Linked DNA regions of Homo sapiens: region 1 is linked to region 2. The links come from fine-mapping of genetic effects on gene expression. A gene starts in region 2. The other region holds a variant in brackets. All regions are shown on one strand. Distances are between the middles of the regions.

Region 1 (15,330 bases), 560 kb before region 2:
AAATGGCCACATTTCCTATATTTTGACAGAGATACTGCTGGAAAAATTAAAATTAAAATGCCATAATAGCTACCTAACAAATATATATGTTTAATGTTTATCATAGGCCAGACATTGTGCTATGTGCATATCATATGTATTATTTCATTTAATTCTCACAACAATTCTGTGAAATGGTTACAGCTATTATAGTCATTTCACAGATGATGAAACTAAGATTCAGAGCAGCTGATCTTGTGAGGCAGCTGGAATTGGAACTCAGATTTGTTGAACTCTAGAACTAAAGATCATAATGTTGTCTTGTAATATATTTATTTACAAAACACTTCATTATTTATAAAGAATTTACTAACAGTTTATCTTATTTATACCCATACATCTGCTACTTTGGGAGGCCCTTTACATAGAAAACAGCATTCTTTTTGCCAAATATGACCAAATTACTTTTATTTATAATTTTTGATTTATATTTCAGCTAGATCTAAAAAGCATCTGAAGGAATTTACAATGAAAGATACCTATGCAATAACATTTAGGATAATCTTTGACATTTTGGAAAAATAAGAATTGAGGAAAAAAAGTGTATCTTTCAAGTAGATGCAAAGCATTATAATGACTGACACTTGTATCTAACTCCAGTCTTACAGATAACTAAGGCAAAAAGCTAAATAAACAATATGTAACCTCTAACATTTGGTAAAAGGAAGTATACTGGTCTGTTAGCAGAGACAAACTTTTTTTAGAATTGAAGTCTGAAACAAACAAAAGCAATTCAATGTCAATAGACATTAAGCAACATAATAGACAAACATCTCCTAAGGGAACATTTGTTACAGCTGCTCCTTCCCTGAACTGTGCTTTGGAAGATAAGCTCTGTCCTGAGTCCAAACCAAGCCCTTCCAAGAGAGAACAAAGGTCAGAGATGTTGAAGATTCCAGCAAATTTCTCCTCTTATTTCTACCAAGCCTTTGTGAACATTGCTCTTCATTTTGGCCTGTACTTCTCCCTCAGGGACGTAGAACAATGGAATGTCAGTCAGTCTCTGTAGTTAAAACTTTTTCTTTAAAATTCAATTAAGGTACTTCTCCCTCAGGGACGTAGAACAATGGAATGTCAGTCAGTCTCTGTAGTTAAAACTTTTTCTTTAAAATTCAATTAAGGTACTTCTCCCTCAGGGACGTAGAACAATGGAATGTCAGTCAGTCTCTGTAGTTAAAACTTTTTCTTTAAAATTCAATTAAGTTACACCAGAATTTACAGGCAAGATTTTTTTTTTCATTGCTCCCATAAGCAAATTTGTTTTAAAATAATTGTAAATGAGGTATATACTTAGTTCTTGGTTAAAAAATATATTGCTTTGTTAAGTATTAAAGATTATTTGTAAGTCATTGTATTAATAATACTAATAAAATTTATCAAGCCTTTATAGCAAGGGTCAGTGAATTACCACTGCCTGTGGGCCAAATCTAGCTCACTATCTGTTTTTGTAAATAAAATTTTATAATAGTACACAGCCACACTCATTCATTTATTTTCTGTGGTTGCTTTCAAGCTACAATTGTAGAGTTGGGTAGTCGCAACAGAATCTCTGTGGCCCACAAGGCTAAAATATTTACATTCTCACCCATTACAGAAAAAGTTTGATAATTCCTGCTTTATAATATGTAAGGCATTGTCCCATTTTGCATAACTTGCCTTATTTCATCATTATCACTACCCATTTAGTAGCTATGGTTGTTATCTTACTTCTACAGTGGAAGAGATTGAAAAGCATTTGTCAGGTTAATGCTAAATCAGTGCGGAAATATAGCTCCACTAGGAAAATATTATTAAATTTATATCCCTAAAATTTTTAGAAATCTCTCAAAATCTTTCCAAATGTTCTGGTATCTTTGAAAAATGTAAATAGTTTATTTATAGAGAACCCTACCTCTGAGGTTGACTCAAAGGTTAAAGAAGGCTCATCAGTCTATCCTTCTGCCTCCATATATCCTGAACATCAAACTATCCCAGGAAAACCATCTAGAGTAGTTTGTTTCAAAATATTAGCCACAGACCACCTACATCACAATAACTCAGGGAGCTTATAGAAGTGAAGATTCCTGAATATAAACATAGTAATAATTCAACCTACTGAATGGAAATCTCTGCTGAAATCCACAGTTTTCATAAGCTCCCCAGATGATTCCTGTGTACATTAAATCTAGAAACCATTAGTTTGAGATCTCTCAAAAATAAAAATAAAAATTGCTTTCAGAGAGTAGCCCATGAAATTTCCCATTCTTCAAGGACAAATTCCTTCTGTTCAGCCTTGGTCCTCCAACTGCAGTTTACAATTTTTGTTCTTCTCCTGTAAAGAATGTCAATGGTTATCACCTTCAATAGTTTCAATATGTCCCCCAAAGTTATGTGTTTGAAACTTGCAATAGTATTGGGAGATGGGGCCTAATGAGGTGATTAGGTGAAGTCTCTGCCCTCATGAAAAGATTAATCCCATTATCTCAGGAGTGTGTTGGTTATAAAAGCAAGTTTGGCTCCCTCTTTTCCTCACACACTCTTTTTCCCTTCTGCCTTCACCTTTGCCGTGGGTGGACACAGCAAGAAGGCCCTCATCAGATGCTGGCCCCTTGGTCTTGAATTTCCTAGCCTCTACAACTAAGCCAAATAAATTTCTGTTTATTATAAATAACCCAGTCTCAGATATTCTGTTACAGAAACACAAAATGGACTAAGACACCACCCTTTTCCAAAATCTCTCCTTGTGATGGCTCCCTTTACTAACCTTTCTTTTAGCTATTCCCTTTATGATAGTTTCTTAATTTTTTCTATCAAAAGCTAAATATGGCACACTTGTTCTTTACAGAAAAATAAAGATATTTTAAACAAAATACTAGGGCCATGGTATGTAATAAAATTTGAAACAATAATTTCAAATAATAAAGATTGAAAATGCTTAACCCAGAAAGAATCCAGCATCCACATTATAATGAGGATTAAAAGGGAAGCCTCTTTTGTACCATCAGTCTTTCATCCGGGAAGCTGCTGCTCCTGACCTGCAACTTTGGCTGTTTCCAAGGAGGCAGAATGTGTTAACAGGACTCACTTTCTTGCCCATTATGCCCTGTGACTAAATGGATTAATGAAGCTAAGTACAAGGCTTCTAAGACTAGATTCTACTTAATCCAGGTCACATGTCAAAATGAGACTAAATATGCAAGGATTTTATTAAGGAAAATACCCGTATAAAGGAAAATAAGGAGAGAGTATGCTAAGGTTTGAGTGTGTCCCCCAAAAGTCCATGAGTTGGAAACTTAATTCCTCCATGCAGCAGTGTTGGGAGGTAGAACCTAGTGAGAGGTGTTTGGGTCAGGGAGGTTCCAGCATCACGAAGGAATTCAGACAGCCATCTCTTTCCTCTTCCACATGCCCACTTCCTCTTTCACTTCTCTGCCATGTCATAGTGCAGATCAAGACATTCACCAGAGGCCAATTAAATGACAGTTCCTTAATCTTAAACTTCCCAGCCTTCAGAACTATAAGAAATACATTTCTTTTCTTTGTAAAAGAAAATAAATTTATTTTGCTTTATATATTCTGCTATAGTAACTGAAAGAAGACTAAAATAAAGGAGTGAAAAGCTGGAAGAGTCATCAGATTGCAACACAAGTCTGACACTGAGTGAAAAAGAGAGGGGAGAAAGGTTGGGTAGAAACATCTTAGACTGCTGTGCAGTCTAAGGAAGATTCATCAGGACCATTGAGAAGTCTTCAAGCCACCAAAGGTGTCCCAAGTCTCTCTAACATACTTACCCACTGGCTGAAAACAGCTCATAGGAAAGCGAGACTTAGCACAAGCACCGAAATGTATCTCAAGTACAGCAGCTGAAGAGCTTGGTCAATTATACTGCCTGTACTAACTATATTAGAGATCCATGAGGCACATTCTCATGGCTGCCACAGGTTTATCACCTCCTTTGTCATTCAAAACTCTCTAATTGATTGTAACCTATCTTCCCAGCCTTACCTCCCACTGCTATGCCCACCATGCTTGCTTTCCGGCCAAACCATGTGACTTACTATTCTACAGAGATGGCGGCACTTGGTCTTGCTTTGTGCTGTTGCAGGATTTTTCCATAGTTCAACTAAAGTCGGGGTTCTTTGTCCCACAGCCATGAAAGTTCAGGCTCACAGACAATTTGAATGGTGAGTAAGACAGGGCTTTATTGAGTAAAAAGGAAGAATTAAAAGGAAACAGGGATTCTCCGCAAGGCCGGAGTCCCTTGCTAGAGTGCTTCCTGCCCTGGAGTTCAAACTCCAGTTTCCACACGGGAAGAGGAGGGGCCAGGCTCCTCCCCACTACAAATGGTGCAAATTTTTGAGGCTCCACCCCAGTGCGCAGGTGGGTTGGAGTTTTTCCAGGGACCTTCTCCCACTTGGCTGTCTCATTCCCCCCTCTAAAGAAGTACATCTAACTGCCCTTAAAATAAGGATAAGGACAAAGACAAATCTTAACAGCTTCCTGCTGACAGGTGGCACTGTTTTGGGGAAACGGCAGTCAGAGCTTCCTCAGAGGCCTATTTAAGGGTTCCTGGCAAAAGGGGCCATTGTCAGAGGCTCTGGTTGCATGACCATTTGGAGTTCGATGGCCTGAAGGCAAGGACAAACAAACCGGGTTATTAGAAAACATATATCAAAGCAAAACAAAGGGAGGGACAAAGACAGCTCAAAAATTCTAAGGTCTTTTTCCAGTTTGCACAGGGAGAGGGAGGCCAAAAGCCTGACTGGTTAAAAAAAAATTGTTTAAAGTAAAAAACTTCACCTTTTTGCCGGAATGTTGGGCTTCTGGGTTTCCTTCCCCTGAGCCCAATCCTAAGCCAACCAGTTTAAGGTTTGGGAAATTAACTCTTTCCAGTTTGGAGGATGCATCTGATGTGAGTGTCTCATAGTATGAAGATGCAACTACCTATTTGTGAAGAGAGAACTGAGGGGGAAAAAGGAAAAAAGAAGGCATTTTTTAAAGGAGTCCCAGGGGTTCAGGATGCATTCGAAAGAGGTACAGACTGAAGATGAATCGCTACCCATCTAGAAAGAGGAGAGCAGACATCTCTGGTTCCCTTCTTTTCCTAGCAGATACATGGGATACATGAGGGAAAGAGGGAAGAGTGTCCTCTTTTCATCTTCCATCCTTGCATCCCCAAGTTCCAGTGACCTTGGCAGGTGCTGCCATGGGTTTTAAAGTGGCTTGCACCCATGAAGCAGGGGGGGTCGGCAGGGGAGTCATCCACTTTTACCCACGTATGCCGTTTCCCCTGCTGTCAGTAGTCTTGGAGTTCCCTAGATCGCATTTATGCTATGGATATTAATATAGCCTTTATCCATGAAACAGGAAGCTTGGGCTTGGCTTAATCAGCAGGAATGAGCCACACTCACCTGTGCTGTGCCTTTTAACCTCTGTTGCTATCTGCCTCTGGATTCCTCAGATCCAGTTTTCTTCCTAGGGCTTTGACCCAACACTTGGAACTGAGTCTGGGACAAGAATGTATCTTGGGGGGTTGCATGGACTCCTTATCATAAGCCAAATGCTAAAGTGAGGCTGTGGAATTAAGTCCTCCAACAAGGGAGAGGAAAGGATGTCTTGTGACACACCCAGATAACTGGTAGCTGTAGTTACGCTTGCCGGGATTTCGGTGCATGATGCTCAGCTTTGGTTAGCTCCCTTGGTCTCACTGTCCCCAAAAGAAAACCTCCAAGTCTGGGGCATCCTATTTATTCCCATCACCTGGCAGGATTTGCAGGATAATTGCTCGGAACTAGACTATTGATCCAGATTTCTATGTTACCCATCCCTTTTGTTCTTTCTGAGCTGCAGCCAGGGATTGCTGGTTGGTTCACAGGAGCAAGCAGGGTTAGTCTAAAATATAGGCAAAAACTCAAAAACAACTATTGAGTTTAGAATTTAGTGACAAATATATGATAAGTTTTGGAACGTAATTTCTGTCTCTCCAGTCCTCATTTTTGTTAAGAAACAAATAATCATAGGAATTAGTTGTTTAAATAGACTTTAGTCTTATACTTGGCCTGATTATTTGCATAAAGTCCAGCAAGAATAATTATTTTTACATAGGCCTTTTAGATTGGCTTTGATGGAAGTCTGTTCCACAAGGAGTCTCAGATAAGACCTTTTAAAACTGAGCCCATCCATGGGTTTGTATCCTTAAACACCTGTGAGTTGGGTGATCCTCTCCTCTTAAGTTCCCAAGATAAACTTGGAGCTCCTAGACCTGTTAGAAAGTGATATTCTTTACTGACCACAGGTCAGGAACCCTGTACAGGGACTATGTAGACAAGGGTATGAGGCCAGTTTCCTCACTGGGCTTTTATTGGCTCTGTCAGTTGAGATTAACTCCTTAAGAGGAAGCATACCCTTCCAGTCAAAGCCTTGGTAAAATAACCACTTTCTCCAATTGTGTTCTGTTGCAAAAGAAAAATGGATTCTTATTGCATGGATGCAAACAACTATATTGCCATAAGTTAAGAATACTCACAGATAGGTTCTAAATTCTGGAGGAACTGGGCAGAGAGAGAGAAACAAACATGCTCCAAATTTTGATAATAGGAGTACACCTTGCTTAATTATTAAAGGCCATAAATAGCTCAAAATGAGTTTCCTTGACTGAAAAACAAAACAAGGGTCATCAATATTCCAAGCAAAAGTCAAAAAGGTTGCTTCAGCTTTTTCAGTTCAGTCCATTTAGTTAACTCTTGTTTTGCTTGATATTTGTGAATATTTCAGCTCTTTATGAGTCCTGTACATTTTCTTTTATTCCAATGTTACAATCTCTAAAGTTATCAGAAATCTGTTTTTGAGAGCACCTGTTAAAGTTCTATAGCTTGTTATAAACAATCTTTTGAAAAGGATTAAAACAAGACAACAATTGTCTGTGAATTACAAAATGTCCAGGGTAGTTACAGTTAGAAACAAAATCGACAAAGAAGTTTGGTTATCTCCATGGTTTACAATAACATCACAACCTTATTATGATTGATAGCATACACTTAGACATTAGAATTTTAGAAATCCCATACAATATTGGAACATATATTAGCATTATTTACCAAGATATAACCTAAAGAAGACTGAACATCATTTTGGCAATACCATGTACCTAAACATGTCAAATAATCCTGTTTACTTCTCTTTTCTGGACATTCTAGGGGCCCTCTGGACTATCCAAAGAGTTAGGTGTCAGGAAAGACCATTTGGAAACTGAAGTTTGATTTTGGGAAGCCTATTAAATAAGTTTAAAGCACTTGATATTATGAAATAGAATTCCAGGTTACCATAAATTATTTATTTTGCCAAAATGGTACTGAGAAATTTTAAAGAAGCAAAAACTTTTATAACCCTTTGAATTTAGTCAATATGTTCACATAGACAACCTCTTCTGCAAGATTAACTTCCACAATGCTTCTATCACTTGTTTGAACGTTCAACTTTTCCTACCTAACTCAAAACAATCCTTTAATCCAAGGCAAAAGTTTACATTTCCATGCCTTCTTATAACCTTTTACTAAAAAACACATTTTACCGTTCTTAGGCATCTTGCGTGTAAATCTATTTTTAGATTACGTGATATAATGGTAACTCCTGGCAATTTTTAACTTTAATGTAAAACCTGCTAAATTGCTTTAATTGTGTGGTAAGTGCTGCAAAGGTTTGCCTTCTTAATCTAGGGTGTGTTTAGTTCCATATATTCCCAGGCCCTACCAATTGTGAAGCAGGCAAGACAGACAGGTCTCAAAACCCAAAAAACAGTTTGTAACCTCAAAAAACTTAGCAAACCTTGCATCTGACCTGCATTTTACCGTAGTCTTTACGGCTGTTTTTATTTCTTAAAGATTAAAGTCAA[A/G]TGAACTGAAAGGTACCAGAAATTTTATCTTTCCTTTAAAAAATATTAGATTCAAGTGTTTGTCCTTCTTTGGACCAGATTCATTAGAGCCGTTTTTACAGACATCACACACAGTACACAAGCAGACAAGCACAAGAAAACCCAGTCACTGGGTGGGTACCTTTAAGAGACAAGGCTAGGAAAACATGCAGACATCAAACCAGAGAGGGCTCATCCCCTAAGGCAGGATTGCTAAGCAAAGCCTTGCCAAGCGGTGGTTACCAGCCATGCCCTCAGGATGTAAAACAAAATGGAGGCTTGATTTCACAATAAAAGCTTTGCAGAAAACATAAACGGTGATAGGTGTGGGGCCTGACCTAGTAAAAAACGTCTTCTAAAAGAAAAAAAAAATTAAAGGTTAACTGCTGATGGAGTGGGGCAGAGAAAGAAAAAAAGTTTTAAAATGCCTGGGAAAGACCCTCTTATTCTTATACAACTGGTTCCTCCACCAGGAGAAAAGCTTAATTACTGTCCAATGGAGTAAAGCCCCTTAGCAGGGGAAGGTGAAGGCTTTGGTGGTGCATGGTGGAAAACAACAGCCAGCTGGCTGTACAGGACACTTGGACCGTGCGTTCCAGCCCCAGAAGGGAGGGGAGAGCAGCGGGGAGGTGCTGCTTGCTGGTCAGTCCCAAAAAAGGAAGGAAAAGGCCTGGGAGCAATAGATGATTGGGGAATGGTTTCCCCTACCCTCAGAAATTTGAGGATGAAAAGGCTTAGAATGAACGTTGAGAGGTTTTGAGTCCCCAGTTCACTTGCCACTTCTCAAGCCCCACGTTGGGTGCCAAAAATGTTGTAGGACTCTTCCTTAGTTCAGCTAAAGATGGGGTTCTTTGTCCCACAGCCACAAAAGTTCAGGCTCTCAAACAATTTGAATGGTGAGTAAGACAGGGTTTTATTGGGTGAAAAGAAAGAAAAAAAGGAAACAGGGACTCTCTACAAGGCCAGAGTCCCCTGCTAGAGTGCTTCCCACCTGGTCATTCGAATTCCAGGTTCCACACAGGAAGAGGAGGGGCCAGGCTCCTCCCCACTGCAAATGGTGCAAATATTTGAGGCTCCATCCCTGTGTGCATGCTGGTTGGAGTTTTTTCTGGGGACCTCCTCCCAGCTGGCTGTCTCAATGCTACTCCACTATTGCCTCCCCAGCCTCTAATAGTTAAAATTCCATCCTTCCTACAATGTCTAGGTCAAATGTTGTTCTCCCTCAGGCTTTCCTGAGTCCCTCCAGCCAAAAATAGTCTCCTCTGCTTCCGCATTACCAAACCATTTTGTTTTAACTCTGCAATAATGTTTACCCTCTTGCCTTCTACTATTAGGTTACTTTTGTAGTCTCTAGAAAAGTTACCTCACCTTTCTGGGACTGAGTTTTCTCATCTCAGCATATAATAGAGGGCAGATAATGACTAAAGTCTATCAAATCCAATATTCTATAATCCTAATTCATCCACTGTCAATGCTTTTATGATGGTTAAATTGAATGTCATTTTATCATGGTAACTGACACTAATGGCAAGATGACAATTTTGTACCTAATAGTCACATTGCCACTCTTCAGCATTGTAAAAAGTAAAGTAGAGGTTCCTCTTCAAAGACTTTCCTCCTTATCTAATTAGGAATAAATAGTAACTTCCCTTAAAAGCAAAATTTATTCAAAGACCTATACTAACATTCTTAAATATCTGCTAGCCATAATAAAGAAATCAATGTACTCTATGTTCTTAGCTCTTACAATTTAGCCTAAATATTTGCCTTGGCATGCTTACACTATTCCAAGCAAGCATTAGGTCATAGCCTGTTTCTCTTCCTTATTTGAAGGTGTTTTTACTTTTCTCAACATTCCACAAGTTATTTCCCCCTTCCTTTGTTCTCCTCTGCCTTTGCCTCTTTTAAAAAGTTGTAAGTTGCTAGCCAATTGGGACAAATACAGAATGTGAGGTCCCATTCCAGCCAATGGAAACTGAACACAGCAGTAAGGTGGACACATCAAGTTATAAATGACCCTGCCTCCTTTGTTTGGTGTACTGTCATGGCAAAACTGCTGGCAAGTGTACCCTTTCTGCAGAAGGCATAAAAATGGCCTTGCTGAGGAAATTAAATTTATGTTCAAGTGCTATTTCTTTACAGCACCAAGGAACAAACATTTCAAATAATTTGGTGGCCTGTACGGGGATACATTCTCATATGGAGGCAGTCTCCAGTCCTGTCTCATGAAGAAGCATGGTCCTCTGCCTCTCTGCAGTAGCCTCAAGGATAAGGACTCGAGACCCACCCAGTGTGATGAATAAACCCAGACTCTCAGTAACACACACACACACACACACACACAAAGAAAAGAAAAAAAGAAAGACAACAACAACAATAAAAACTGGCTGGCAACCTGGAGTAAAGCATCCTCACATATCACATGAACCAAGAAACTCTGTACACAGACAAGAAAAAAAAAAAAAAAAACAGAAAAACCAGTAAAGTATTTCCTTAGTAGTCAAAACCAAAGAAAAAGCCACAAGGCAGTAAAGCATTCCTTAATTAAGACATTCCGAAAAAAGAGAAACCACAATGGGGGGTAAAGCATTCCTTAGTCAGGACTAAGGAAAGAAAGCCTCGGGGGTGGGGAGGGGGTGGTGGTGAAGTATTCCTTAGTCAAGATGTCTTAGAAGTTAAAAAGAAGTAAGAAATCTCCATTAAGAAAGAAGTTGAACCTCAGAAAGAAGTGAAAAATCCCCATGGGGGGTTGAACCTCAAAAAGAAGTAAGAAATTCCCACTGAGAGGAGGTTGAACCTCAAAAAAAAGTAAGAAATCCCCATAGATAAGAAGTTGAATCTCAAAAAGAAGTGAGAAATCGCCATTGGTGAGGGGATTGAACTTCACAAAAACCTCTGGTAGTAAAAAAAATTATATATACGTATATATTCAAAATTCTCCTTTTCCCTCTTCTCCGGGAAAGAAAAGGCTAAGCTCCACTCCCGCCGGTTGCTCCCCTAGGGGAAGGGAAAGGAGAAAGACAGCAAAAACAGCAAGTGCGACACCAGACAGCCAGGCACACCAAGAGTTAAGCCCCTCTCCCCAGCCAGGCTCTATGTGAAAAAGAGGGCAGGGACTGATGCCAGAAGGAGAGTGTGGGGGACTGCCTGGGGCCAGGACTGCAGCTGTGCAAATCCCACCCAGCCCAAGAAACTAAGTGTAGGAAGAAAGGGGAAAAAAAAGTAAAAAGGGAAATCGGAAAACAAACAAACAAACAAAAACAGGAGAAACAGATGGCAATGTATGCGCAGGGGTGGGGCCCGTGCCGTGGCCTGACCCTGCCGTTGGTGGGAGCGAGAGAACTCAGGAGGGGAAAAGGAAACGGGATGACAGAGAGAGAGAGAGAAACAGAGTGCAAATGAGAGAGAGATAAATAGATGGAAAGAGTAAGTAAGAGAGAAACTGGAAGAGACAGAAATCAAAGAAAGACACAGAAGGTGAAACTACGAAAACAAAGAGTGTAAAAGGAAGGCAGAAAGTTAAGGCATGTTGAAGATTGTGAAAGTTGTAAGAAAAGTTATGAAAAGGAATTTATGCCAGAAATATTGTATAATTTAAAAAGTAAGTAGGCCTCCTGAATGTAAAATTATTTGAAAAACAGTTTATTTACAAGGTATGTAAGAAAAATAAAATATATTTTTAATAACAGGATTATAAGGAGGCATAAAAATATAGGTTTTTACATACATTAAAAAGTTAAAAATATATATTTTGTTTTAAAAGTTTAAGCAAGTTTTAAAATGTTAATTGTAAAGGAAATTCTGTGTGTAAACATAATGGCTAAAGTTAAAGAGGTATCATCCAGTTTTTCTGTGAACTGGACATTAAAATAAAAGCACAATAGATTTTTCTTAAAGCACTAACCTGCTCTTTAGCAAAAATTATAAACAGTTAAAAAGAGTCTATAAAAGTCTTACCTTATAGTCAGACATCAAAAATAGATTAAATATCTACAAGATTTTATTAAAATTAAGCTTAACATTAATAGCACATTAATATAAAAAATTTAACTTATCTGGTATAAAATCATACAAAAACACTGTCAAATATAAAACGGTGTTTAGCTTTCTTAAGGCCCAAAAGTGGCTGGGTAAGTCACAAGGCTCCTCATCCCCAAGGCCACAGTGCACAGGGGCGGTGAAGGCCACAAGAAGGCCAAGACCTTAAGAGAGGGCAAGGCCACAGCATCCCCTGGGCAGTGCTGAGCAGAGATGGAGCAGGAGGTGTCACCATGAGGCCTCAAGCCCCAGGATATGCAGCAGAAATTACACACTTAATTTATCTTCCACTTTCCCTTCCCTCAGAACTGAAAGTATTTTAGCACAAGTACCATTCCTAGAATTTCCAGTACACCAGCACCAGCCTGAAAACCACATTCTCATCAAAAGATAGAAAAAAACTCAAGCCAGCCTGGGAAGGATCCTATTTTATGCTGTTAACCACTGAGACTGCCGTCCACACAGCTGAGAAAGAATGGACCCACCATACTCGAGTCAAGAAAACATCTTCCTCTTCAGAATCATGTTACTGTACTAAGATCAAGCCCTACTAAGTTAAAGTTAAAGAAAGCTTAATTTTCATATACCTTCTATATTGCTTCCTTTCCTTTCCTTATTCTGTTACTAGCTTCTTTGTTATTAATGTAACTAAGTCTGACTCACCTCAGACCATTACCTTTAATGCTTGCTCTGTCATACCTTGTGGAGATGTAAAAGATCAATGACAGCTAGCCTTTTCACACAAATATTTATGACCCGGCTCTCTACTGGACACAGTTACCCCTAGCACTCATCATTGTGATCAGCTGCAGCCAAGACACTGATTTTCTGCTCCTGCAGCCTGGCAACCTTGTAGAAAATAGGACTATGTCCTTTAAACTACTTAGAAGCAAAGTTGGACTTCCACAAAAAAGGTTTGTGCAGATCTAAAACCCCTCATCTATTTCACTAAAAGGACTACCCCTTCTAACTGGCAGCCTTATCTATGTAACCCTGTCCTTCTCTTTATCACCACCTCCACCTTGACTAACTCTAGGCCAGCCCTTAGTTGCTTCTATGGTATGAAGATTGACATAAATGGAAAAGACCCCTAAGTATTTTTAAAGTATGCATGATTCTCCCATCTTCCCCTTCTTCAGTAGCCTCAGTTCTAGATCCCACACCAGTTGCTCCTACATCTAATAATAAAACTAAGCTGTCTGTTGTAAAAATAAGAGATCTAAGACAGACCTTAGCCATCAAGACAAAAATATCAAGATGCAAATGCCTGGCTGGAATGAATTAAATATTCCGTTCGCACTTTAAATAAAAGCGATTATTATGCTTGTACACATGGTAGGCCAGAGGCCCAGATTGTCCCCTTTCCACTTGGATGGTCTCCTTGTCAACCAGATATGGAGTGTATGGTGGCTCTCTTTCAGAATCCCATGGCTTAGGATAATACATCATGCCGAGCTCTCTATCTGCTATTTCCTGAAATTCAACACCCTACGGGTCAGCCCCCAAGGGCAATCCAGCTTCCATCTCAGATGGCCAAGTTTACTTCATGCCTCTCATAGCAAGAGGAAAATTTGGTGTTCCTTGGAAGCATAAAAAAAATGCAAGGAGCTCAAGTCTTTCCAAGAGCTTGATTATCAGTCTATGCTTAGCCATCCCCAAGCAAATGTATAGTAGTACTGTAGAAGACCTTTATTAGACACTCTGCCAAATAATTAGAACAGTACTTGTGCTCTAATCCAATTCGCTATCCCTTTCACCGTAGCAATTCATCAATCTAAAAAGGTAAAAACAAAACACCTCAGGCCAAAGGAAACTCCTTATGAGTCCTTTAATCCTCAGGTTTACATAAATGCCATTAAAGTCCTGTGAGAAGTGCCAAATAAGTTTAAAGCACAAAATCAATTAGCTGCAGAATTTAAATCCACATTGTTCTAGTAAGTAACTATAAAAAAAAGTAGGCTAAATAAACTATATCTATTACAATCAGCAACGATTCATAAATTACACTGAGGACACCATCAAAGAGATACCTAAGCAATTAGGACCTATCAGCCAGATGGCCTAGAAAAATAAAATAACTTTAAATATAATATTAGCAGAAAAAGAAGATGTTTGTGTCATACTTAAAATTTAATGTTATACCTTTGTTCCTAAAAATACTGCCCCTGACAGAATTATAACAAAAGTGCTACAAGAATTAAAAACCCTATCCAATAAACTTGCCAAAAATAATAAAATAAATAACCCTTTTTCTAAAGTAATAAAACATTTGTTCAGTAGATAAAAAGAAATTTTAACTTCAATTCTCACCTCATTTGCTGTTGTTATTGGTGTACTTATTCTTGTAGGCTGTTATATTATTCCCTACCGTCGAAGTTTTACACAAAAACCTGTCTCTGCCATGCTTACAGAGTTAACTCCTAACTCTCCTCCACCTTATTCAGAAAAATTACTTCTCTTAAAAGGACAAACAAAGCAATTAAGTCAAAACATATTAAACAAGTTTGAAGAAGAATTATGAAATAAGAGGAGGAATTGTAAAAAGTAAAGTAGAAGTTCCTCTGGAAAGACTTGTCTCCCCATTTAATTAGGAATAAATAGTAACTTCCCTTAAAAGCAAAATTTATTGAAAGACCTATAGTAACATTCTTAACTATCTGCTAGCCATAATAAAGAAATCAATGTACTTTATGTTCTTAGCTCTTACAATTTAGCCTAAATATTTGCCTTGGCGTGCTCATACTAGTCCAAGCAAGCATTAGGTCATAGCCTGTTTCTCTTCCTTATTTGAAGGTGTTTTTACTTTTCTCAGCATTCTACAAGTTACTTCCTCCTTCCTTTGTTCTCCTCTGCTTTTGCCTCTTTTAAAGTGTTCTAAGTTGCTAGCCAATCGGGACAAATACAGAATGTGAGGTCCTGTTCTAGCCAATGGAAACCGGACACAGCAGTAAGGTGGTAAGGTGGACGCATCAAGTTATAAATGACCCTGTCTCCTTTGTTCTGTGTACTCTCATGGCAAAACTGCTGGTGAGTGTACCCTTTCTGCAGAAAGTATAGAAATGGCCTTGCTGAGGAAATTGAATTTATGTTCAAGTGCTATTTCTTTACAGCACCAAGGAACAGGCATTTCAAAGAGCATGGTGCTATTAAAATAAAAACTTTAGACAAGTTAAGTTTAACATAATTTATTTGAGCAAACAAATGATTCATGAATTGGGCATTACCCTGAACCAGTAAAGGTTCAGAAGACTCTACCTGGCAATGTGGGCAGTCCATATTTATAGATAGAAAAAGGAAGTGACATAACAAAATAGCCTGATTTGTTACAGTTTAGCACTTGCTTTATTTGGACATGTCTGAGCAGT
Region 2 (15,330 bases):
TAAGTTTTCCTCTAGAAGCTTCACAGTGTTATCGTTTTTAGTTAGTTTTTGTATATGGTGTAGGGTAAGGGTCCAACTTCATTCTTTTGCATGCAGATATCCAGTTTTCCCAACACCAAGGGAATTGGCATTTTTGAGAAGGAAGGGGCAGGTTAGTGTGTCTGGAGCTTGGTGAACAAGGAGAATGATAGAAGATAAAGTTGGATCATGAAAGGGTATGCTAAGATTCTAGATTTCTTTCTCAATGCATTGGGAAGCTACCGGAGAGTGACATGGACAGATTTATACTTTTAAATGATCATTGTGTTCCTCAAAAAGTTAAACATAGAATTACCATGTGATCCAGCAGTTCTACTCCTATATATTCTAAATAACTAAAAACACACTTTTCACACAAATTCTTGTACATTAATGTTCATAGCAAGACTACTCATAATAGCCAAATAGTGGAAACAACCCAAACTCCCTCTATGGATAAATAGATATACCACATTTATCTACACAATGGAATATTATCAGTCATAAAATGGAATATATATATACTGTTGTATGCTATGACAAAGATGAACCTTGAAAACATTATACTAAGTAGAAGAAGTCAGACACAAAAGACCACATAATATATAATTCTGTTCATGCGAAACATCCAGAATAGGCACATCTATTAAAGACAGAAAATAGGTAAGCAGTTTCAACAGGAAGGAGGGGAAAATAGGACTAATTGCTAAGAGGTAGGGATGATGGAAATGTTCTGGAATTAGACAGTGGTAATGATTGCACAGCATTGTGAATGTACTAGAAAACACAAAAGTGCATACTTTTTTATTTTTTATGTTTTGAGACAGGGTCTCACTCTGTCACCCAGGCTGGAGTGTAGCGGTACAATCACAGCTCACTGCAGTTTTGAGCCACTCCCACCCCCAACCCTGCCAGCCCCAGGCTCTGGTGATTCTCCCACCTCAACTTCCCAAGTAGCTGGGATCATATGCATACACCATCATGCCCTGCTAATTTTTAAATTGTTTTGTAGAGACAGGGTCTCCCTATGTTACCCAGGCTGGTTTTGAACTCCTGGCTTCAAGTAATCCTCCTGCTTCAGCCTCCCAAAGATCTGGGATTACAGGTGTGAGCCACCATGCCTGCCCAGTGTACACTTTTAGATGGTGAATTTTATGTGAAGCATATCTCAGTTCAAAAAATCTTATTAAAAAAAAATCAGCCCAGCATGGTAGCTCATGTCTAGATCATTCTGATTCCAAATCCCAACCTTAACTTCTGTGCTATATAGTTTCTAGCTAAGGGTTCCCTCTTCTGTCAGCTGTCTTCAGAAATATACCATATTCTCTGAGGACATTTCTCTTTTGAGTCTTCAAACACCAGAGCTTACATGATGAACTGTTTAAAATTTTTTAAAAATTAAAAAAATGAAAAACATCAGAGCTGCTGCTTGGATGAAATTTTGACACGTGGAAATTTTTTTTCTACTGTATGTCAGCAGTGAGGATGAAGATATACTATTCAAAGATGAGATGAATTAAGAACAGTAAAATGTTTTGGCACCATAATTTGTGATTCTTCTTAGGAAAAGGTCATTCGTGCAGCCCCATGGCAAGAAAACAGTTTTAGTTTTAGAGAAGTATTACATACTATAACTTTTTTGTTGGACTAAAGGGAGTTTTGTTTTTCTGGTTTCTTTGAGGACTCTGGATCTGAACGTTAAAAAATCCTCTGGGTGGAGTACTCAAGTGAATTTTATTTATTAAATGCTGTTTTAAAATCCATTCCCTTAGTGGTAGAAAAATATTGTTATGGGCTGAGGACAGAGAGCATCTATAAAAATGGGATACATGAGATGGTCATGGGTTAGAGTGCTAGAGTGTAGGAGAAAAACAAAATGTTTTTCAAGTTTTTCTTTTCCTGCAAAGAAACTGAAGTTTGGAATAAAATTATGAAGAAAACAGTCTAATAGCTTACCCTTGTGGTTTTTCCCAGTATCCAGGCTGTAGAAAACAAAGACAGTCAAAAGGAGGCTTTGTGAGCCCCCTCATATAGGGGTCAAATGTATTCATGCACAGCCTGTTAACCTTGGCATCATTCCTTCATCTCCCCAGTCTTGCAGCTTTCAAAATGTTATTGCCTACTGGCCCCAAAGGCAAACAACTTGCAATGTATAATATGCCCTATATTAATGCCTTGCAGTCCATGCATATGAGGAAACCAATCCATCAACAGACGCCCTTAGTGACAGAGTAGGAAACTACTGCACAAAGAAAATCCTGGGAATCAAATACAATACCAGAGGCAGTCACGGCTCAATTCGCTCAGTCATATATAACTTTTTTTTTTCACTTACTTGTAATCAATTGGAATTTTGCCTTAATTATATATGTATAGGTATATATATTTAAGAAAGCAGTGTGTAATCATCTATGTTGAAACGAATTTGTTAATCTTGTACAAGGCTGGCACATTCACCCAAAGGGATTCTCTGCCAATGTGAAAATTAACTCTGTAGCTCTGAGCCTCTCCTTCCCATGGATTCAGTGTATGAGAAAAATTCTTGGCCAATCACAAGTGCTATACAAACTAAAAAATACTATGATGCACTGGGCATGGTGGCTTACACCTGTAATCCTACCGCTTTGAGAGACTGAGGTGGGAGGATCCCTTGAAGTCAGCAGTTTGAGACCAGCCTGGGCAACATAGGGAGAGCCTGTCTCTACAAAAATATATATTTTTTTAAATTAGCCAGGCATGGAGGCTCGTACCTGTAGTCCCAGCTACTTGGGAGACTGAGGTGGAAGGATCACTTGAGCCCATGAAGTCGAGGCTGCAGTAAGCTGTGACTGCACCACTGCACTCCAGCCTGGGTGACACAGTGAGACCCTGTCTTATATAAACAAACAAACAAACAAATAAATAAATAAATAAGTAGCTATTATCATCATCCCAATCTTAGGAATCCAATATCAGCTTGATAGTCACTTTTCAGGTCAACAATATCGTCAAGAAAAGTGTTGACACTCAGCTAATAAAATGGCAGAATGTTACCCTAGGATGTTATTGTGTCTGCCTTCTATTATCCCAAGATACAGGAGAACATTCATTTTTAAACTTCTCAAATGTGGAAAACAAACCCATTTGCTAAGATGATTTCCAATTTGAAATAGTTTCCAGCATTATATGAGCCACTCCCTGTACACCAAAGAGACATTCCCTTTACTTAATTTTATATCCCACTCGTGAAACATTTTCATGTGTTGGACCTACCAACTCCAACTGGATACCACTGACAGGAAGTGAGAAGGGTATGAGCCCTGGGGTAGGCATGCAGGGTGGGGAGACTGGCTTTTAGCTCTGGCTCTGGTTTTTACTGGAGTGATAACCTCTAAATTCTTTTCTAGCAACAGTTCTACAAATAATACCCCTTTCTCCTTCCCCGTTTCTTTCTACAGACTATTTCTTCAGTCATCCAGAGGCCGATGTAGGAGTCATTTATGAGTCCCTCAGTCTTTTATTCCCCCTATTCAATCAGTCATCAAGTGCCTCAGTCTTTCCTGAGAACATCTCTCAGATCAGGTCTTTCTGTCATGACTCTGCTTCTCTGTTGACTTCCTGTGGCCTGACAGGCTGAAGCTAAATATGTGGAATAGAAGACTCCTCAAAACCTGCCCTTTACCTCAGCCTCTAGTTGTATCTTCTGCTGCTTTCTCCCCACTGTGACCTTCTGCCCCAACCACACATACTCTCTCTCTCTCTTTCTCTCTTCTGTTTATGTTCCGTATTAGTTTCCTATCACTACTGTAACAAATTACCAAAAACTAGTACTATATGCAATACAAATTTATTATCTTACAGTTGGATCAGTCAGAAGTCTGACAAGTCTCAATAAATTAAAATCAAGGTGTCAATAGGGCCGTATTTCTTCTGGAGGCTCTACAGGAGAATTCATTTCTTTTCCTTTTCCAGGTTCTAGAGGTCACCGCCTTTCCTTGGTTCATGGCTGCTTTCCTTCATCTTCAAAGCCAGAAACATTGGGCCAAGCCCTTCTGTCTCTCCCTCTTCTACTTTAAAAGACCCTTGTGGCCCAGCCTGGCCAACATGGTGAGACTACTAAAAATACAAAAATCAGCTGGGTGTGTGCACGCCTGTAATCCGTAGCTACTCAAGAGGCTGAGGCAGGAGAATTGCTTGAACCTGGGAGGCGGAGGTTGCAGTGAGCCAAGATCGTGCCACTGCACTCCAGACTGGGCAACAGAGTAAGACTCCGTCTCAAAAAAAAAAAAAAAAAAAAAGAAAGAAAATGAAAAAGGACCCTGTGATTACATTGAGCTCAGTTAGATAATCTTGCTATGTCAGCTGATTAGCATCCTTAATTGCATCTACAACCTTAATTCTTCTTTGCCTTGTAACCTGTTACCTTCACAGTTTCGGTTCAGGGGATTAGGAGGTAGACATCTTTAGGGGAGCATTATTTTGCCTCTCTCATCCTCTGCCTCCCAAATTGTCAGAGATGCTTTTTATTCCCTCTTTATTATTTTACAATTAATCGTAGTAACAATCAATTGAATATTACCACAATTATGAGAATGTTTCAATTAAGTAAGTTTGACTGTAAATTATATATCCAGAGGTCTGGATTTATATTTTTAGGAAAAAACTCCACAATACTGAATGGCTTTATCTAAATTTAGCTTGCATTTTAAATCATATTTTTAACCACTCTGGGGATCCTAATAAAACACAAAGCATTTTAACATCTTATTGGTTTAAATTAACTAAGTATACTAATGATAACACATACCTATCAATTATATTTCATAGTTAAATCTTGAGAGAAATAAGCTTCAAATAAGTATTTTGAAAGGTTAATGCTAGGGTCTAATGTTACAATATATCTAAAATATTTCTGTGTTAATCTTACAATTTTAGAAAATCTCTAGTATGTTTAAGCTTAAAATGTTCTGGTTGTTATCACTTTTTTAGGCTCACAGAAGGGAGGCAGGCACAGATGGAAAAACGTAAGTTACTTACCCTTTTGGTCTGAAAAACACTGCAAACAGTAATCATACTTTTAGAGCATCAAATACGGGGCTGGAGCCTGGGCTGTGATAGAAATAACTTCGTCTTTTCTAATAACATGACCTTAACAGAACAGACAATGGAGACAGAGGGAAAAGCAGCAGCCAGAAATTCTTGTAAAGGTTCCAGAAGGTGAACCATGCTTTTTGGTTTTTCACCTATGTCATGCTGATATTAAGCAGTCAGATTATATAGTATTTTTGTCCCTTCCTCAGGGAAGCCTTCTCTGGTTACCCCTTAGATCAGTAGAGGTCACAAAGATATACTATCATGGAATGGTATGGTTCTCCTTCACAGCACTTATAACTCCCATTACAGACTATTTTTGTAATTGTTTAATGTGCCCTCCACGTGATTACCATGCTTACCACTGCATCCTTAGCTTCTACCACAGTGATTGGCCCCTATTAGACAATTAAAATATTTGTTGAACTGAATTGAATAAAGCTTTGGGGGGCACAGAGCAGCTGCTATGGTTTTTGTTTGTTTTTGTTGTTGTCGTTTTTGAGAGGGAGTCTCCTTCTGTTGGCCAGGATGGAGTGCGGTGGCGCAATCTCTTGGCTCACTGCAACCTCCGCCTCCCGGGTTCAAGCGATTCTCCTGCCTCAGCCTCCTGAGTAGCTGGGACCACAGGCACACACAACCACGCTCGGCTAATTTTTGTATTTTTATTAGAGACATGGTTTCACCATGTTGGCCAGGCTGATCTCAAACTCCTGATCTCAAGTGATCCGCCCGCCTCGGCCTACCAAAGTGGTAGGATTACAGGCGTGAGCCACCGCGCCTGGCTGCTATGCTGTTTTGCTTCTTTGGTATCGTGTAGCACATTCAGTACAAGTGATGTCCTCCGCTCTCAATAAGTGCTTCCTAAAGAACTCACATTTCACCCATTCAGAACCTTGCATGGTGTAGTAGCTGAAGTTACTACTTCAAGGACTCCTTCTCTTTATCTTGGGTAGAGAGGAACAATGTGAACTCAGCAAAGGGATCATGAAAACAGATTTTCTCTTATGTTACTTGTAGAAAGCTTTTAGATTTATCATTGAAAATTGCGAATTTTGAACCATATCCATTTTGACTTAATTGTATTTTAAAACAGTGGTTCTCAAAAAAGTGTGGTTCCGGGACCAACATCATCAGCATCGTGGGAACTTGTTAGAAACACAAATCCTTGGGCCTCACCACTGAACTAATGACTTAGAACAGGGGTTGGACTGGGGAATTCTGTGTTTTAACAAGTCCTCCAGGTGATTCTGACGCATGCCAGTTTGAGAATCACTTTTTTAAACCAATGTTTAAGTCCAATCTAACCTACTTAACTATTAACAGTCTACCTGGCTATCTACCTGTGGTAGTGTAGTATGTAACAGCCCACAGCACACATGCTCAATTCCAAGCCTATCTGCTCTCCGCAATCAGTATATTCCTCCTGCAATTTATCATGGTATGAAAGGCCCAGTGATACACATATTTGGTCATTTTCAAATAGTGCCTGCCAGCATAGTGGCTCACACCAGTCATCCCAGCACTTTGGTAGGGTGAGGCGAGATGATCATTTGAGCTCAGGAGTTTGAGAACAGCCCGGACAACATGGCGAAACCCCATTTCTACAAAAAAAAAAAAAAAATTAGCCAGCGGTAGTGGCGTGCTACTTGGGAGGCTGAGGTGGGAGGATCCCCTGACCCCTGGAAAGTGGAGACTGCAGTGAGCCATGACTGCACCACTGCACTCCAGTCTGGGCGACAGAGACAGACCCTGTCTGAAAAAAAAGTGCCCTTCACAGAAGCTTCCTCAGGGTATTAGCATGAGCATGTGAAAGTACAGTATGTTTATCAAACACATAAAATAAGCAGTTATAAATAACGTCAGAATAACACAAGGAGGCCAATTATCAAAATGAAAGGCTAGTTTTGCATGCTGTGCTTTGCGGAGAGAAGGAAGAGGGAGTTTTCATGTTATTACACTTTTGATAGCAGAATCCTATATTTTGGTGCAGAGGTGGCAAAATAAGGCGGGGGGTGCTGGTGCGCAGAAGCTGACAAGGTTAGAATGTGCAGCGTTTTTACGACGGACTGGCTTTACTCATTTCCTGCCTCACTTCTCTCCTATCTGTATAGGTTTTTCTTTTCGTCCTCCTCTACCAGTACGCTCCCGCCTGCCGCGCTCCGCCCTTGTGCGGCGCACGATCGGAGTCAGTGATTAAGCCGGCTCCAAGACAAAGCGGAGGCCGAGCCCAGGAAGCAAGCGCGCTCTCCGCCCCGCCTGGAGGGAGGGCCCAACCACAGCACAGCCGCGCTCACTCCTCACCCGGACGTGACCTAGTTCTCACAGAGGCCCGGCCTCTTCCGCCACAACTCCGGCCCGCGGTCCCGCCCCGTTCCGTGAATGGTCGGCCGGCCTCAGGTCAAAAAAGCGTTTAGGTGTCTGCGACGGAGCCTCCGGAGAAAGGCAAGCACGTCGCAGCCAATGAGGTGATAGAAACGCAAAGCAGCGACCAATGACTAGCTGAGTTGGGCTGGGCCGGCCGACGAATCACGAGGCTTCGCACCCGGATATGGTTATGGGCTCGGAAATCTAGTTCGGGAAAAGTGTGAGGGGCTCTTCACGTGGGGAAGGAACAGCAGGCGCGGAGGAGGGGGCAAGCGTGTGTGAGATTCAGTGGTCCATGCGTGCGTTTGTCGTGTAAGGGTCATTCCTGGGGTTTGGAGTGGGGGAACAAATCAATGTGGCTGTTTTTCCGTGGAAAGAATTCCCACTGCAGTGTCCCGGAGCCTGCGTGTGGTGGGCAAGCTCCTCAAATGGTATCTCACAGGGAATAGGGGAGTCTTGAAAACGCAGCTTCGGCAGTAGGAACATGAACCTCTTACCTAAAAGTTCCAGGGAGTTTGGCTCCGTTGACTATTGGGAGAAGTTCTTCCAGCAGCGAGGAAAGAAAGCTTTCGAGTGGTATGGAACCTACCTGGAACTGTGCGGGGTGCTACATAAATATATCAAGCCCAGGGAAAAGGTGAGGAGCGCGGGTTGGTAGCCCTTCGTACGTGCTCCGGAAGGTGGGAACTGGTAACAGGAATCTTGCACTTGGTGGACAGTGACAGGCGGGAGGACCCTAGTTGGACGCATATTTCAGCATTTCCTGCATTGTTCCTGCTAAAAGACAAACTAGAATATTCTTTCAGGCCGGGCGCAGTGGCTCACACCTGTAATCCGAACACTTTGGGAGACCGAGGTGGGAGGATCGCTTGAGCCCTGGAGTTAAAGACCAGCCTGGGGAACATGAGACCTCGTCTCTACAAAAAATGAAAAAATTAGCCGGGCGTGGTGGCGCGCATCTGTATTTCCAGCTACTCGGGAGGCTTAGGCGGGAGGATCGCTTGAGCCCAGGAGGTCGAGGCTGCAGTGAGCCATGATCACGCCACTGCACTCCAGCCTGGGTGACAGAGTGAGACCCTGTCTAAAAAAAAAAACATTTCTTTAAAGGTTTTCAGATAATAGACCTCCCACCCCAGCTCATTCTTGGATTAATAACCCTACTTGAAGAGTGACTTCCCATCTTGAAAGTATGTTCTTCTGTCACTGTGCATTCCTGTGCAACCTGCAGCAGGTGTGACTTTGTGTATGAATTTGTTTTTCAAATAGTCGTTGAGTGCGCCCCAAGTTTCAGGCACTGCTCAGTCCTTAAACTATAAGAGCATTAAGACGTAAACCCTGCACATGTTCCAGAAGTGAAACGTGATAAGTACAACAATGGGTTTGGTATAGGTGAGATTGTACTGGAGGTAGGGAAGGAGGAAGGTAGAAAACTTAACATTTGTGGGGAAGCTTTATGTGCCAAGCCTTATGTTGGGTGCTGTGTATGTGCATGTGCAATCTTTGAATTCTCATCATAAATTCAGGTGAGTGGCCATGCATACATTTTACAGATGAGGAAACTGAGGCCCCGAGAGCCACTTTTTTTTTTTTTTTTGCCCAAGATCATGTCCAGGTGGTCATGTGGGGATTTAAACTCAGGCCTGTCTGGCTCCAGAGCATATGCACATCTCTTTGTACCATGCTTTTCCAAAGATGGCAATATCAGAATTTCTAAGTTTGAATGGGAGATTGCTCCCTGGAGAGGGAGACAACAATCTGAATTTTAAGTTCGGCTTCAGAAGATAGCCAAATATCATGAGATGGAATCCGTGATGGAAGTAAGATTTGAATCCTCACAAAGTGTACTTTATTGTCTAAAGGAGCCAAAGGCATGAGTAGAGTGAGGAAATAGGGTTATTCCTGGCCTAGGATTTCAACTGTAACTCTATATTTGGATTCTCTGACTTCCTATTAATTCCTGAGTAATAAGTGCATGATTTAGAGAAAAGAACAGTTATGATTAATTTGTTTCTGCAACACAAAGCCCATTCTCATATAACCTGTATTGTAGCTGAATGTGGTTTTCACTAGCAAGTATATGTGGTGTTTCAAGATAGAGTCTAGCATCAACTCTACAATGTCGCTCTTTCTCTGGCAGTAGCGTCTCCACCTTCTGAAAATGTGACTCAGCCAAGGTGAGACTTGATTCCTTGAAGTACCTGAAGTACAGTCCTTTGCTTTGATTACCTCCCTCTTGTCTGTGAATTTTTTCTCCAGGTGCTGGTGATTGGGTGTGGCAACTCAGAACTGAGTGAGCAACTGTATGATGTGGGCTATCGGGATATAGTGAACATCGACATCAGTGAGGTTGTCATCAAGCAAATGAAGGAATGTAATGCCACCCGACGGCCCCAGATGAGCTTCTTGAAGATGGACATGACGCAGATGGAGTTTCCTGATGCCTCGTTCCAGGTGGTGTTGGACAAGGGCACCCTGGATGCTGTCCTGACAGATGAGGAAGAGAAGACCTTACAACAGGTGGACAGGATGCTGGCTGAGGTTGGCCGTGTCCTGCAGGTGGGCGGTCGCTATCTCTGCATCTCCCTGGCTCAGGCTCACATCCTGAAGAAAGCAGTGGGCCACTTCTCCCGGGAGGGGTGGATGGTGAGGGTGCACCAAGTGGCCAACAGCCAGGACCAGGTGTTGGAAGCAGAGCCTCAGTTCTCCTTGCCTGTCTTTGCCTTCATCATGACCAAGTTCAGGCCAGTCCCTGGCTCTGCCCTTCAGATCTTTGAGCTGTGTGCTCAGGAGCAGCGCAAGCCTGTGCGGCTGGAGAGTGCCGAGCGGCTGGCCGAGGCGGTGCAGGAGCGACAGCAGTATGCCTGGCTGTGCAGCCAGCTGCGCCGCAAGGCCAGGCTGGGGAGTGTGTCTCTGGACTTGTGCGATGGGGACACGGGGGAGCCACGCTACACCCTCCACGTGGTGGACAGCCCCACTGTGAAACCATCGCGGGACAATCATTTTGCGATTTTCATCAGTGAGTTGGGATTGCTCCCTCTCTTCCCTGGAGGGGCTGGCTTACAGGGGCTGGGGCTTGGGCTGGGGCTGGGGCTGAGGCTGGGCTGGGGCTTTGGTGGGATTCTGGACTGTTTTTTGTCTTGCAGGGGTTTGTACTTCCAGAGGATTAGACTACCCAAGGCATGATGAAAGGAGAGTAATAGCTCTCTAGCAACCTACTTGGAGTTGAGACCTATTCCTTTTCATCTGCCATTGCAAAGGCTTGATGAAGTGTGAGAATGGGGTTGGTAGGGAAGAGAGAGAATAGAGATAAATTTAGGAGGTCACATATGATATAGAGATGCTAGTTACTTTGTAGCATGGAGTAATGGAAGTAATGCTGGACTAGCAAGTCTAAGACATAGGTTCTAGTCCCAGCTGTAGCCTGTGAGCTGCAGGACCTGGGGAAGTTGCTGTGCTTCTCTGCAAAATTTGGAGAGGCAGCATAGGGTAGCAGCTAAAAAAGTGAGCTCTGGAACCAGACTGTTTGGGTTTCAGTTTTGGCTCAGTCATTTCCTGATGGTGTGACATTAGACAGGTTACTTTTCTTTCTCTGCCTTGATGGGATTGTAACTCTGGTGTAGTTGTGAGAAGTATAAAAGCTCTTAGAAATGGTACCTGGCCTTGGAAGTGCTGTGTAAATGTTAGCCATTATTACTGAAAGCAGTAAGTTATATCAGATTTATCTTAATAAGGATAAAAAAGATAGTAGGAGGAAGTGCTTTCAAAAGTGGAACATTGTAGACAAATGCAAAGTGTTTATGGTCTTGGTGTTACGGTAATTTGTTTCCTGGTGACTGAGCTAGTTTTTCAAGTATTCTATAATTCTGTCTGTCCATGTGTGGAAATAAATAGTGCAGTGAATACAAGCGTGGGTAGAGTCTGGGGCTAGACTGCCTGGGTTTGAGTCCCAGCTTCACCATTTACTTATTGTGCGAAGTTGGGCAAATAGTGTAACTTCTGTTTCTCAGTTTCCTCATATGTAAAAATGGGAATAATACTACTACCTGCATCTTGGACTGTTGGAGGATTCCATTAATATATATTTGTCAACAGCTTGGAGTCATGCCTGGCATGGCTTATTTGTGTTGGCATTACTGCTGTTTTTCTTGTGGTAGGTGTCTGCCTCCTTCCCCTACGGACATGCCCACACTTCTTCTCCACCCTTGGTCCTGCCTTATGTCTGATGGGCTGCTTTGCCCTAGATGTTGTGAACTAGAGAATTGTTAGCTCCTCAGTGGGTCACAGTTGGGGAAGATGCTGGTCTTGGACAGGGACTGGCTCCCTGCCGTTTGGGCCATATTGGTTGTGGGCTTGATCACTTTCCAGGACTCCCTGTAACCAAGTTCTTTTTTCTAGTCCCTCAGGGCCGGGAGACCGAGTGGCTCTTTGGCATGGATGAGGGCCGGAAACAGCTGGCGGCCAGTGCTGGCTTCAGGAGGTTGATTACAGTGGCCCTTCACCGAGGTCAGCAGTATGAAAGCATGGACCACATCCAAGCTGAGCTGTCGGCTAGAGTCATGGAGCTGGCCCCAGCTGGGATGCCCACCCAGCAGCAGGTAACAAAGCTTTCGTACGGCTTTCATGGGTCTCTGAAGTCATGTTAGCAGCCAGGGAGGCAGAGGGAGCCTTGGCAGGAGCTAGGACTAGAGTCTGTGACTCTTCATCTAATCCTGGAGGGGTATCAGCAGCTAAGGGTTAAATGGCAGGGAAACTGTCCTTTGCCCCAGGCAATGAGAGGAAAGTGAGCACAGTAGCGTCTGTGTCTGGGGGAGCCTCTCAGAGTCCATAGACATGGCAGGATGGAAATGCTCTACTCATTGCGGGCTTCAGTTCTTCCTAATTTGAGTTGCTCTGACTGTGGATTTCTCCTTCCACACTGGACTTTCTTGGTCATTTTGCTTCTTAGAACTATCATTATCTGAGGGTATAAATGGAAGAGGGCCAAAACAGCTCAGCACAGTTATCCAGGTATTCACATTGCTGGTCAGGTGTTTTACTGGGAAGGAAACCGAAGGTTTTTGCCTAAGTGGTGATATGGTATTATCAGTTAACACCAACTGTCTTGTGCTATCCTGGTCACCATGGGTAACGAACAAGTGATTTTACTAAAAGAACTTCATGATGAGGAGTTGATCCTTTTTTTTCTTTTTTGAGATAGGGTCTTGCTCTGTTGCCCAGGCTGGACTGGAGTTCAGTGGTGTGATCACGGCTCACTGCAGCCTCAGCCTCAACCTCCTGGGTTCAAACCATCCTCCCACCTCAGCCTTTGGTAGTAGCTGGGACTATAGGTGCAAGCCACCATACCTGGCTAGTTTTTTTTTTACATTTTTTGTAGAGACAGGGTCTCCCTATGTTGCCCAAGCTTTGATCCTTCTTGATAGGTGGGAAAGCAAAGGTATCTAGAGGCTTGGTGCAAATAGTAACAGATCTGAAAAAAAAGAACCCAGGCTCCTGGGTTCCTGGCCTGTGGTTTTGCCCACTAGGCTGACTCGTGTTTACAGATGAATGTAAGTTTGATTCTTCCTGGCCAACTTTGGGGTTGATGACCCCTATTTCAAGGAAGCCCAGATCCTCTGAGGAGCTTCATTTGTGGCCTCTCACCAGTGCCTGAGTCTGCAGGGTCAGGAGATATTGGTGATTATTAACTAGTCTTATAGGTCTTTAAAAAAAGAAATAAAGATAGGGGGAAGGAGTGGGAAAGTTTAGGGGGAAAGTATATTTTTCTCCTAAGGTTCAGAAAAGTGGGGGAAAAATAGATGAGAATAATCAGGGGAAAGGAATATCTCTCTAGATTTGGAGTGGTTGTTTCTCCCATGGATTTTGTTATCTTTATTCTTGTGTAGATTCCTTCTCATAATCACAGCCCCTTCCTGAGGGTTCCCTCTAGCTTTTGTTATCCTGGACTATTGAGAGTTCTTTTAGGGGTTACTGATGAGAAAAACCCCTAAAAGAACTTGGGGAGAATCAGCTGCATCTCACTAGTTGTTTGGGAGATCTTTATGTGTCCAGTTGATTTTCAAAAGATGAATTAAACCTTTGAGATCAGTTCAAAGGCTCCAGAAAAGTACTTTAATAGAATGGCAAATCTGTGGAGTAGTTGTTGTCTAGAACCGTGGTATGGGGATATATACACACAAAAGGGAAGGGGTTATAATTTCTCTTATTTCTTAAATGAGCTGCTGTTTTGACCACATCTCTGGTTGTACCTTCAGGTCCCCTTTCTGTCTGTGGGTGGGGACATTGGGGTCCGGACCGTTCAGCACCAAGACTGCAGCCCCTTGAGCGGTGACTATGTCATTGAGGATGTGCAAGGGGATGACAAGCGATACTTCCGTCGACTGATCTTCCTCAGCAACAGGAATGTGGTGCAGTCCGAAGCCAGGTTGCTGAAGGATGTGTCTCACAAAGGTGAGGTGTCATAGGCACAGTGGTGGGACCCAAGTGGCCGTGGCATGGACTAGATTTCTTGGGAGCTTGGCCGAGATGTAGGATGGACCTGGGTGTCTGTAGGTTCTTAACCATCTGGACTCTTAGGGTGTGAATAGCTATAAGCAGAGTACATTCTGTTCTTGAGCAGAGCCTGGCTCTGAAGTGATAGGGGACGTGAGTAGTGAAACCAAATACAGTGATAATCACATTAATGTCTTCGGTTTAAAGGCATCTGTTTTGCAGGTGCTCCATATACATCTGTGTATTGTTTCAATAGGCCTCTGTGAGGTGAGCCAGAACTATGGAAGTTGCAGGTGAGCCCTGCCCTCCATAGTGTGACTCACCTGTTTCAGAGGGTTTTGGATTGGCGGGTGACTTAGAGGCCTTCTAGTATACCACTGTTCAGTAAAACTGCCTGTGATGAAGGAGATGTTTAGTTCCTGAGTTTCTAATGTGGTCGCGACTAGCCATATGTAGTGCTGAGCGTTTGGAATGTGGCTAGTGTAACTGAGGAACTGAATTTTAATTTTCTTTAATTCTAATTAATTTACATTTATATTTCAACAGCCATAGGGGGCTAGTGGCTAGTATTGGACAGTGTAGATCTAAACCATCTCTTCTAGGATCCCTTTAAGTGGTCTCCCAGCTGTCACTCAGAAACTCCCCCGATGGGGAATCAATAGTTTGTTTTACCTGTGTTAGTTTGTATTTTAAAAGTGATACTTGTTCATTGAAATCACTTCAAAAGTCAAATATAGACCGCGAAAAGTGAATGCCCCTCACCTCTCCGTCTCCAGTGCATCTTCCCTGTCTGAGGCGCAGAGATTCAAGGATGGAAGCTGAAATGGCTCTCCTGATTCCCAGTTGTTCCCTTTGCCTGACTGGCCTGCCCTCATAGCAAGGCCATCTGGGAGGAGGGTGGAGACAGAGAATTCAGATGCTTGAGGTCATAGACTGGCTCTGAGCCTAGAATCAAGTTACCCAGCGAAATGGTATTTTTCTTTAGGGGTTTTCCCTGGCCAAGAGCACCCAAGATTGTTGGGTTTCTGCCCTATTGTTTGGTCACTGTGGCTGCAGGTTGGTCCAGTTTCATCTCACTAAAATCTCAGTAAAATTGCTTAAAAGAACATTTTGCCCCTTTCAGTTTGGGTTTCAGGTTTTTTCACCATTGTCATGTTCCTTGATTTCTTGGTAGCACTTTGTTCTCATGGAAAGAACGTTCTCCCTCATGGGAGTATTGGTGAGCAAGAAGGAGAGCATATTAAAAAGTGATTTAATATATCTGAAAAGCACCCCGACTCCACTCATCAGCACTTTTTACTGCTGGGGAATGCAGCTGATCCCTATGAAGACACAGCCATCCGTTTAGTATGATACCCTGGAGCAGGGAAGGGAGTGGTGAGAGGGAAA

What was found. PIP is the estimated chance that this variant, and not a neighbour inherited with it, causes the effect.
Region 1: its variant is the best candidate, but not a certain one, in a credible set for the expression of METTL13 in unexposed skin (GTEx, PIP 0.84).

The regions. Positions count from the first base shown.
Region 1 is chr1:171,209,722-171,225,051 of GRCh38, forward strand. The region is part of intron 2 of FMO1-AS1 (FMO1 antisense RNA 1); the gene reads right to left. LOC124900413 (a long non-coding RNA gene) reads right to left here and starts at 14,640. Exons shown (of 2, transcript XR_007066731.1): 1 at 14,276-14,640. It overlaps FMO2 (flavin containing dimethylaniline monoxygenase 2), which reads left to right. Exons shown (of 9, transcript NM_001460.5): 9 at 1-2,965. RefSeq lists an enhancer at 9,912-10,473. The variant A/G (reference allele first, on the strand shown) is at 7,910.
Region 2 is chr1:171,774,032-171,789,361 of GRCh38, forward strand. It overlaps METTL13 (methyltransferase 13, eEF1A N-terminus and K55), which reads left to right and starts at 7,629. Exons shown (of 8, transcript NM_015935.5): 1 at 7,629-8,089; 2 at 9,709-10,468; 3 at 11,848-12,047; 4 at 13,704-13,899. The coding sequence starts at 7,937. RefSeq lists enhancers at 7,318-7,612, 7,442-7,975.